3 linked regions of the Homo sapiens genome follow. The main gene of each other region encodes a partner of the protein of the gene in region 2 in a complex. Each region holds a gene or a part of one and is shown on either strand. Other genes may lie near its edges. The genes, in order: SF3A2, SF3B3 and HTATSF1.

The links.
Region 1: SF3B3 (region 2) and SF3A2 share a complex: the UniProt entries of both Homo sapiens proteins name them as parts of the 17S U2 SnRNP complex.
Region 3: SF3B3 (region 2) and HTATSF1 share a complex: the UniProt entries of both Homo sapiens proteins name them as parts of the 17S U2 SnRNP complex.

The regions. Positions count from the first base shown.
Region 1 is NC_000019.10:2,239,824-2,243,473, forward strand, and holds part of SF3A2 (splicing factor 3A subunit 2), read left to right. Parts: intron 1-3,558; 5' UTR 3,559-3,595; coding exon 3,596-3,650. UniProt on the Homo sapiens protein: Component of the 17S U2 SnRNP complex of the spliceosome, a large ribonucleoprotein complex that removes introns from transcribed pre-mRNAs.
Region 2 is NC_000016.10:70,558,185-70,561,834, reverse strand, and holds part of SF3B3 (splicing factor 3B subunit 3), read right to left. Parts: intron 1,367-3,650; coding exon 1,244-1,366; intron 206-1,243; coding exon 51-205; intron 1-50. UniProt on the Homo sapiens protein: Component of the 17S U2 SnRNP complex of the spliceosome, a large ribonucleoprotein complex that removes introns from transcribed pre-mRNAs.
Region 3 is NC_000023.11:136,503,951-136,507,600, forward strand, and holds part of HTATSF1 (17S U2 SnRNP complex component HTATSF1), read left to right. Parts: intron 1-413; coding exon 414-513; intron 514-3,650. UniProt on the Homo sapiens protein: Component of the 17S U2 SnRNP complex of the spliceosome, a large ribonucleoprotein complex that removes introns from transcribed pre-mRNAs.

The sequences.
Region 1 (3,650 bases), on a different chromosome or scaffold from region 2:
TTTTTTGTTTGGATCGTCCTGTCTGTATTTTTCAAGGGCTTTTTGTTTTAATTCAGCTTGTCATTCAGCTTCCTGTTCTGGGTTTGTGGTGCAGTGGCTTCCCCCGATAATGAAGGAGGGTGTCAGCGATCTCTTACTGGGATACCCATCAGTCTCTTTGTTCTCGGATGCGTGTGTTTCTCTTTAAGAACAAAGCGGCCGGCAGCTCTGTGTGAGCGCCACTTCTCATCCAGGGAGGTCAACTGCCCAGTGGCCTGGCAAGGAGCGGGCCTTTTCTTTGAGGTGTGGGGACCCTGAATGTCAGTATTTGAGAACTCTTCCTCTGGCGCTGTTTCCCCGGAAAAGACTCCTGGCCTCCCCCGGGGTGGGGGGCGTCCGTGCTGGGCCGCCTGCCACCTGAGCTGTGCGGAGGAACCGCCAGACTTCCCGCTGCCCAGGCGGCAGGTCGTGATTCAGTCCCCCCTTTTCAGCCTGACCCTGGACCCCCTTGCTCTGCTGGGCCTGTCTCTCTAACTCTAGAGGCCCTTTTATACCAGTTCTTCTGGGAATAAAGTTCTGATCTCCTCGAGGGTTGTGGGCGATCCGAGCGTGGGACCTTCCCCGGGGTGCCGCCCCATTTCAGCTGCTGAGGAGGGACAGTGTGGGTGTTCGGTGGCTGCGATGGCTTGGGTTCGGATGGTTTCTGGTTTTCGGATCAGAGCTTTACTTGGTGAGTGGTTGAGTATTGGTCTGGGTTTAGGTTTCAGTGGGCCAGACTCCACAGGTGCTCCCTGTGACAGCTGGAGCTTGTGTCCTGAGCCAGCCACTGGCCGCTGGGGCGTTCTGTCTGGCCAGTTTTAAGAAGTAACTTGGCTTGCCCTAGATGGATTTGAACTCTTGGCTTTGTTAGCATTTTGCCATCTAAGTTCCTTCTCCAAGTCCTCCCAGCCATCGTGTCATTAGAACGTTCTGGAAATGTCACTAAAATGTGCCCGGAAATAAGTGCATCAAGATAGATTGGTGGCTCTTGGTGTGGCCATCTGCACCTGTCCTGGCCCCAGAAGCTGTGCTGCCTCTTCCGCATGGAGGAGCAAAGCGCAGGTCGCTCCTGAGGCTGAGCTCCGCTCCTCCTGGGCCCTGGGTCCTCCGCAGACACGTCCCACCCACTGCTCTTCTCTCTGCCAGAAGCTGCCGGCCATGAGGACGCATGGGTGGGCGCTGTGGAGAGTGCAGGCTTGGGGGTAGAGACCAGTGATGGCTCTGCAGAGCTTAGCCTCAGAGTAGGGGCGTGGTCCAGGAGAGGCCACGACAGGGACAAGCAGGGCGTTCGCATGCTGTTGAATTCCTTCATGACGAAAGGAGCAGGTCGTCCTCCCGGGAGAGGGGAGCGCTTGATGACGCCCCGAGATCTGTGTGTGGGAGTGCCTCTCAGCACCAGGCCCCTCCTGGGTTCTTGGAGTGCATCCGTGAAAGAAGGCCGATTCCCTGCCTTCTCACACGTTCCCCCGAGCGAGGGCTTGGTTCGGTGCTGAGATGCGTGGAGGACTGTGGTTTCTGTGATGTGTGGAGAGGCAAGTGCGGCTGCGGCCTGGTGGGAGGCTGCTTGCTGGGCTCCCCACGCACGTCCCCTGATGTGAGTTTCATGTCACTTGACCAGGAAATGCTTGAATGTCCTCCAGAGAAAAATGAGGCACTTCATGAACCTGTCCGGGCGGCACCCACACAATCCTGCCCGCCTGTGGGCCGTCCGGAGACAGAACCTCCCAGGCAGCTGTAAGCTGTTGTGGCAGCAGGGACTGTAGGAGTTGGCGTGGCCTGCAGCTGACGGCGCCAGCATGGAGAGGGTGCAGTTCTCCCTGGTCCTGAAGAATGTGTGGCCAAGAAGCCCGAGGCGGGGAGGGTTCCTTGGGGCCAGAGGGTGGCGTTCCCAGCAAAGGACAGTCCTTCTGGTGTCACAGTCTCCTTTTTCACACTGGAATGTTCTTTGTTTTGTGAAGGGATGGCGATGGTCACAGTGGTGGTTTCTCGAAGTTTACGTGACAACATGTAAAAATGGGCATCTCTAGGTGGGCTTTTGTGACATCTGAACTTCTGATGGGGCAGCCGTGATACTGCAGTGAGCTGGGAGGTCCACCTCACCAGTTACCATGCTTGATCATTTTCATAAACTTGCCCAGGGAATAAAAACTGGTTGGGGAGGGCTCCTGGGCCCCCATAGAGTAAGGGGTGACTTCAGGCCCCACCACAAGTCAGCAGTACAGCTGGCCTGTCCCTCAGCATGCCCCTGCACACCTGCGGCCACTGTGGCCTGTCCCTCAGCGTGCCCCTGCACACCTGCCGCCACTGTGGCCTGTCCCTCAGCGTGCCCCTGCACACCTGCGGCCACTGTGCCCTGTCCCTCAGCGTGCCCCTGCACACCTGCAGACACTGTGACACATCACTGCAGACGCAGTAGTTCAGATGACACGGCTGTATCAGCTTCTGGTTCTGGGGTCAGAGTCCAAACAGTCCACAGGGCTCCATTCCTTCTGGAGGCTCTGGGGGACAACTCGTTTCCTGCCTTTCCCAGTGTCCAGAGGCACCTGTGTGCCTTGCCTCGGGGCCCCTTCCTCCCCATTCACAGCCACAGCGCAGCCTCTCTGACTCTCAGCCTCCCGCCTCCTCTCATGAGGTCACCCAGGATCACCTGCCATTTTAAGATCCTCAAGCCCACCTGCACATCCCTTTTCTGCCATGAGGGGACATGTTCACAGGTCCCAGGGATTAGGATGTGGACATCTTTTGGGGGCAGTGATTCACTCAGTCTCATGGGCCCCATCTCTCTGAGCTCACCCAAGACCCTTAAACCAGGGCCCGGGGCCAACATTGAGCAGGCAAGGGAAAGACTACCAGGAGATGAGAGGAGGCTGCCTGGAACTCAGATTTGCACAGAGCCTGAAAGGGCGTGGGAGACCTTGGCAGAGGCCTGCATCAGGAAGAGGATGTTGGGGACTCAGCAGAGCCCCCTGCGCCACAAGCAGATGTGGCAGATCTCCCAGGTGTTACTCAGTGAGGATGCGAAGATCAGTGTCCTCACTGATCTCCGCCTAACAAATTTACATCGAGCCCAAGAGATTAGGTTGGGACAAGTAAGCGTAGCCAACCAGAGAGGGAATTCAGAGGAAGGCGTGAACACTAGGGGCTTGGGCAGTCCGGGATGGCTTCCTGGAGGTGGTGACTCGTTTGTGAGATCTTGGTCTTGTCTTCCCTTTATGCCTTCTCTGGGCTCCCTATTACAATTTCAGGTCTCCAGGCCTTGGCACCCTGGGCTGGAGCGGCTTCCTCTCCATCCCTCATGCCTGGTCACTTGGAGACAGGCTCCAGCTTCCTTGTGTCTGTGCCTGTCCACAGTGGGCCTCAGCCTCCTGGAAGAGACTGGGTGCGCTATGGGGTGGCCCCCTCAGGGCTGGTTAGACCCTGGCGCTGGGAGTGCAGGGTGAGGGGCAGTCTCGAGGGCTCCAGCCCAGCCCGCCCAGGGAGGTCCCAGCAGCAGCCCCGAGTTCTGAGCCATCTTCCTCACTCTCCTCTTGGCCTCCACAGGTGTCTCCCAGTCTGCTAAAGCCCTAAGGCCATCACCATGGACTTCCAGCATCGCCCCGGGGGCAAGACCGGGAGCGGGGGCGTGGCCTCCT
Region 2 (3,650 bases):
CCCTTGGCAGAAAGGCTTCCTGCTGAGCTTCAAACATGAGACTCACTCACCGTAGGGTGTTGGTGGAGATGGCCACAATGCCCTCGGGACACTGTTCCGAGGCAAAACCCGATGCAAATTCCAGTGTCTCGTAAGACAGTGGGGTGAGATGGAAGCGAGATTGGTAAGAATAGCTCAACCATGAGCGGCTTGACATGGCCAATACCTGAGGGGAAAAAAAAAACCCAGCTCCAATAAGGTTTGGGAAAAAATACAAATATGGTATAAGCTGACCAAAAGCCCTATCCCCAAATTTCAGTCTGCAGAGTATCCTAAGATATTCTAGAAATATAACAGGCTATCTTAAGAAAAAGAGGGCTAGAGAGAGGCACTATGGCTTAGCATATGTGAAAAGCATGGGCTACGAGCCATATGATCTAGACTCACCATTTCATCTCTCTAAGCCTGCTTCCACGTGTGTAAAATGAAAACAGTACCACAAGGCTGGACAGCTGCAAGAATTAAATGGAATGAAGGCCAGGTGCGGTGGCTCATGCCTGTAATCCCAGCACTTTGGGAGGCCACGGCAGGCGGATCACCTGAAGTCAGGAGTTCGAGGCCAACCTGGCCAACATAGTGAAACCTCATCTCTACTAAAAATACAAAAATTAGCTGGGCGTGGTGGCATGCGCCTGTAATCCCAGCTAATCGGGAGGCTGAGGAAAGACAATTGGTTGAACCCAGGAGGCGGAGGTTGCAGTGAGCCAAGCTTGCACCACTACATTCCAGCCTGGGCGACAGAGTGAGACTCCATCTCAAAAAAAAAAACAACAAAAAACAGAATTAAATGGAATCAATTAGCACAGTGCCCAGAAACACTAACATTCTTAACTACAAAGGACACAATGTTTCCCAGTCTCTTTCACATTAGGTAGTAAACGTGACACTGATCTAAGACTGGGATAAAACCTGAGAATTCTCATGGCTAGTGGTGTCCTAGAGGGGAGGTTTCCAGCCCTATTTGACCAGCCAGAGGGCTAAAGGGATCGATATCTCTACCCAGCTATAACCAAATCATGACATGGTGCGATGGAGCCCCAGTGAGGAAGCTCTAGGTTAGGAAAACTCAGGACTTCTCACATGAAGGAAACCAATCAAGATGGAGTGGCAAATTAGTGACAGTGAAGCTTACAGCAAAGATTGTTCTCAGATGGTGCCACTAAAATCCCAAAGATGTTGCCTGTCCCCAACCTTCATTACTTACTGCCTCCTGGCCTTGCATTCGGACTCGGAAGAGCTTCACAGGACGGGACCCCAGGTACCGAGTGCGAGTATCAGACAAATCCCCAGTGACAGGGTCCAAGACAGTCCTCAGCAGCACACCGTTCTAATCAAAAGGAGAGGAGCAGGTGAAGCCTGATGGAAGCTTATCAGCTATGATGGGAAAACCTCTCCCTTGGGTACTTCACATAAGAAATTAGAGCAGATAGAAAGAAATGACTTGGGTGTTTAAAAAAGATCCTAATAATCCGATAGCCATTCATTTCATTCTCTCAGTAAATCACTTAATCATCCAAAGTTATGGAGCATCTACTAAGTAAATACACACTTATTTTTCACTATATCTTCTTAATATTTCTTTTTACCAAGTATATTAAATCCTTCTTCACTACTGTATATTTCAAATAAATAATTAAATAACCACAAAGACCATGGTCCCTAAACAGCATTTCCTCTTAAAGGAACAAGGTTCCTAAAAGGAATGACTAGTTTGGGGCAGGGGCAAGAATGTTCCAGACACATGTGGGGATACTTTATTGTGCAACAAGGCAAGGAAACCCCTACAAATAGTGGGGTCATGTTAAAAGGACAAAAGAACTAACTTCAAATAGAAATTCCCACTTTTCTAGAATGAGTCAATTTACCACCCCCCCGCACCCCTCAAAAAAAAAGAAGCCAGGTGAGGTGGCTCACATCTGTAATCACAGCACTGTGGAAGCCAAGGAAGGACGACTGCTTGAGGCCAAGAGCTAAAGACCAACCTGGCCAACATAGCGAGACTCTGTCTCTGTTTAAAAAAAAAAAAAGGAGTTTTCAGCACAAATGTATAAAAATCCACAAGTTTATGATGTTACTCTATTTTTTTAAATTTTTATTTATTTATTTATTGAGACAGGTTCTCACTCTGTCACCCAGGCTGGAGTACAGTGCCACAATCTTGGCTCACTGCAGCCTCCACCTCCCAGGCTCAAGCAATCCTCCCACTTCAGCTTCCCAAGTAGCTGGGACTACAGGCATGAGCCACCATTCCCAACTATTTTTTGTATTTTTGGTGGAAATGAGGTTTCGCCATGTTGCCCAGGCTAGTCTCGAACTCCTGAGCTCAAGCAATCCACCCACCTCAGCCTCGCAAAGCGCTGGGATTACAGGTGTGAGCCACAGCACCTGACCAATGTTACTCTAAAAAACAGCAAAAAACCCACTTTACTGGGCCCCACTGAAAGGAGTGCTGTGGCCCTCACTCCTTACTCTGAAAACAGGTGAACAATGGGAAAAAAATTATTTATCCTTTTCCTGTATGAACCGTACTTATAGTAAGCAAAGAAATGATGCGAATTTTGTCTTTAGAATTCCAACTAATTAAATCCAAAAAGAAATAAATCATTTTCCAACCACTAATGAAAGAATGAACCTAGGCAATGTGTGTAATAGCTGTAAGTAAAGGGTTGACGGGAACTTTAACACAGATACAGACAAACATCCCAACATCACTGTGAGTGGGACAACCAGACACTACACTCCTCCTGACGTGATGCAACAGGAGTAAACAGCACCACCTATTAAGTATTCCTGTCCCCCTCCCCCAATAATTAAATCTGAATCTAACCAACTTCTTCTTCTGCAATATCCGATACTATAGCTACCCCAAGCCACATGTGGCTAGTCAGAACTGAGACAGGACCAGGCATGGTGTCTCACACCTGTAATCCCAGCCCTTTGGGAGGCCAAGGCGGGTGGATCGCTTGAGCTCAGGAGTTCAAGACCAGCCTGAGCAACATGGCAAAACCCCATCTCTACTAGAAACAAGAAAAATTAGCCGGGCGTAGTGGTGCACACCATAAACCCAGCTACTCAGGAGGCTGAGGCATGAGAATCGCTTGAACCCAGGAGGCAGAGGCTGCAGTGAGCTGAGATCACACCACTGCACTCCAGCCTGGGCAACAGAGCAAGACTCTGTGTCAAGGAAGAAATTTTTTTTAAATAAAGACAAATAAAATTTTAAAGAGAACTAAGACTGCTAAGTGTAAAGTGCCAATACCAGATTTCAGACTTGGTTTAAAAAAGAGAGAAAAAAAGGTGAAATAGCTCAGCAATTTTTATATTAACTACATGTTAGAATGATTTCAGATATACAGAGTTAATAAAACATTAAAACTGGCCAGGCACGGTGGTTCATGCCTGCATTCCCACCAGCACTTTTGGAGGCCAATGTAGGAGGACCACTTGAGGCCAGGAGTTCAAGACCAGTCTGAGCAACACAGCGAGACCCTATCTCTATTTTTTTTTAAAGAAAAAAAAAAAACATTAAAATTACTTTTTTCCTGTTCGTGGCTACTAGAAAATTTAAATTACACCTGTAGTTCACCTTACATTTCTAATGGATGGCATGG
Region 3 (3,650 bases), on a different chromosome or scaffold from region 2:
ACCTGTACCTCCGGGGTTCAAGCTATACTCATGCCTCAGCCTCCCCAGTAGCTGGGATTACAGACGTGCACCACCACGCCTGGCTGATTTTTGTATTTTTAGTAGAGATGGGGTTTCACCATGTTGGCCAGGCTGGTCTTGAACTCCTGGCCTCAAGTGATCCGCCCGCCTCGGCCTCCCAAAGTGCTGGGATTATAGGTATGAGCCACCGCACACGGCCCCCTGCCCATTATTTTTATTTCAGAAAGTTTTCTGACTGGAACTATGACTGAAATACAGTTTGTTGTTGTAAAATCCAGTAATTATCTTTATTAAATACTCAGTAAAGTATTGTATGAACAACTCATTCTTTTCTCTCTCCAACAAGTCTGAAGCAAAATTTACAGTTTGTTGTTACTGCTTCATTGCCTCAGGCAGTTGGATTGGAGACCTGAGAGGCGAGCCGGACCATCCCGGATGCGCCATGAGCGAGTTGTCATCATCAAGAATATGTTTCATCCTATGGATTTTGAGGTAGGAAGTGGTGTGCTTACTGATAGAAATGCTGATAGGCTTTTTTTCTCTCAAGGGAGCCTGGAGCTTGCCTCGCCTCATCTTTGTCTTGTCACCTCCTACGTGTTTGTGCAGCGAGTAGTAAAGGAAGATGGAGCCAAGAAGCTACTTAAGTCTTTTGATTTCCCTTCCCTTTGTTTAGCCCAGTATTGTTTTAAAGTGTATCACAGATAAGACTGTTTAATAACCATACTGCGCCCCAAGCAGCAGCTACTTGGTATGGGAAACCATTGAAAAATATCATCATCAAAAGATTTATGGGAACTGCTTGTGGATTTTCAGTGCAAGCCAACAAGTATGGCCTGATTTTGGTGGGGAGTACCAGCTTCACAATTGTAAATGCAAACTTCAGTTTGGTACTAAAAGTTATAATATTTAATGTCCGTGGAAAATTCCAAGAACAGCAAGTAAAAGTGAATAAGTACATCTGTTATGTATCAACTTTTTTAAGTGATTTTAAAAAAAGTTAATGGAACTGTCCTTCCTCCCCTCAAAAAAGTGAATAAAGGAGAAGCAAAGAACAAGGAGTTCTGAGGAATATTGTCATCAAAGTACCTTGTGTTACATTCTGCCTGTATTCTTATCTCTGTCTACTGGTGTAGACTGACTTTATTGTTGTGGAGAAACAACTCTTTATTCTCTCCCTGGTTCTGAAATTAGTGATAGCAAGTTATACAGAAAGCAGGTTATACAGATAGCAAGTTATACAGAGAAAAATGTTCATAACGTAAAATTCCGTTTTTACCAATAATCTAGTTGTAAATTAGTGCCCATTCCTGACCCTTTTGTGCATTTAAACAGTCAAAATGGTAATATAATTGTAGCTCCCTTAGAGAGGGCCCCAAAATGGACAGTTCAGCTCTATCTCAATGAATAGTGTTGTGATAAGGTTTACTGTGTACCTATGGAGTTTGGGCATCTTTTGAGGTCATTGGAAATATACGTCTGGTTTATTTATGAGATTGATTGATATCTCTTCTGACTAGAAATCTGGAAGAATTTTGAAATATAACAGTTTACAGTTTTACAGTTGCAGTGATAATGAAGTATGGTTTATAAACACGTGCACACCAGATGCATTTTGAAATACTGTTTTTGCCAGCAATAACTTTAAAATGAATGCATAGAATTACAAAAATATTAGCTGGGCATGGTGGCGCATACCTGTAATCCCAGCTACTCAGGAGGCTGATTCAGGAGAATCACCTGAACCCGGTAGGCAGAGGTTATGGTAAGATCGCGCCACTGCACTCCAGCCTGGGCAACGGAGCGAGACTCCATCTCAAAACAAAACAAAATAAAACAAAACAAAGAACCAGATCATAGTCATTAAAGCAGCATATAAAATAAATGCACAGATTGATCACAATATTTAGTCTGCTAAATACAACTCCGGGATTTCCTATTATTTATTACATTTTATCCCCCTGCTAAATAAGTGATTTATTAGGTGACATATTTATTTCTGTGACTCGAGGTCTTTGATTCACACATTTCATACTCCTGCCACCCAAGTGTGAATGTAAATGCAAACCTAATTCAAACTATCTGGAACCTCTGCAAGTAGAAGTCTGTTGTGTAATTTTAATCTATTCTTGTTTCTACCTCCTGCCTTGCTCATTGAAATACCTTATTTGAGTCTAAGGATCACCCCAGGCAGACTTAGCTCTTCCCAGCTTAACAAATATTCTTTCCCCAAAACCACATTTATTCTACCTTGACCCCTATACATTCCCTCCAGTGAATATTTTTAAAGATAGAAGTTTCATGCTTGCAAATTCCTGATTTTTTTTTTAATCTTCTTGGTTTAGTATAAACATTACTTTGGAGTTACAGAGCCTTTATACTACCCTATTTTGTTTCCTTCATAGCATTTATTATTATCTGAAGTAATTTTGACTCGTCTACTAGAATGTGAGCTCCATGACACCCAGTATTTTGTCTACCTTGTTTGCTGCTGTATTCTCAGTACATAGAATTTGCCTGGCACACAGTTGGCCCTTAATATTTATGTGATGAAGAATTGAAAGAATTGCTAAATGAAACCCTTGTTATTTACAAGCCAGAGTCTTTTCATTCAGCCAGTGGATAAAACATTTTCTCTTCAGCATCTTTGCAAATGAAAGCAAATTTTCTTCTTAGATGCTTATTCCACAAAGGATGGTGGGACATTGTCTTGGCCGTGGCGGAATTAGTTCACAAAGAAATGCTTGGTGATGCTATCCTTGTTTGCCCACCTTCCTGGCCTCACATGGTCCAACTAGCTTGCTGAGAGCGTGTCAACAAGAAGAGTGACAAATAATCTTGCTTTTGTTCACTGTCTCTGAGCACCTGAACCTCAGTGTAGACCTGTGCTGTCAGATATGGTAGACTGTAGCCATGTGTGGTTAAATGTAAGTTAATTAAAATGAAATAAAATTCAGTTCATCGCTTCTACTAGGCACATGTAGCTAGTAGCTACCATATTGGATAATGCAGATATACAACATTTTCATTATCACAGAACCTTCTATTGGACAACACTGGTATAGACATTATATAACTTTTGATAGAAGTGTCCAACAGGAAAACCTGCTTTTATTGCATGTTTTGGGGGAGTGTTTGATTTGACTCAAGACTCCATATGAACCTAAAGAACACACAGCAGCATTGAGCTTTTTAGTGGAAAACAAAAACTGAATTGTCAGGTTATCCTGAGATATCTGAAAGGAGTCAGATTTTGGGTGGAGGGGTATATTTTGATTCCAAACAGTTAGAAGCAACATACCTAAGAATACTGTCTGATCTGAAGGCTAACATTTTTAATGTAACTTCAGAGGGTCTTCAGTATTTAATTCAAATCCTTACTTTAAAATGCATTGCCTGGCAAATTTGAATACCAGGACATGAAGAGTCAAAACTCAAATGCATTAGCCGGGCATGATAGCACGCACCTGTAATCCCAGCTACTTGGAAGGCTGAGGCACGAGGATCACTTGAATCCGGGAGGCAGAGGCTGCAGTGAGCCAAGATCGCGCCACTGCACTCCAGCCTGGGCAACAGAGTAAGACTCTGTCTTCAAAAAAAAAAAAGAAAGAAAGCAAAGCACTGAGACATTG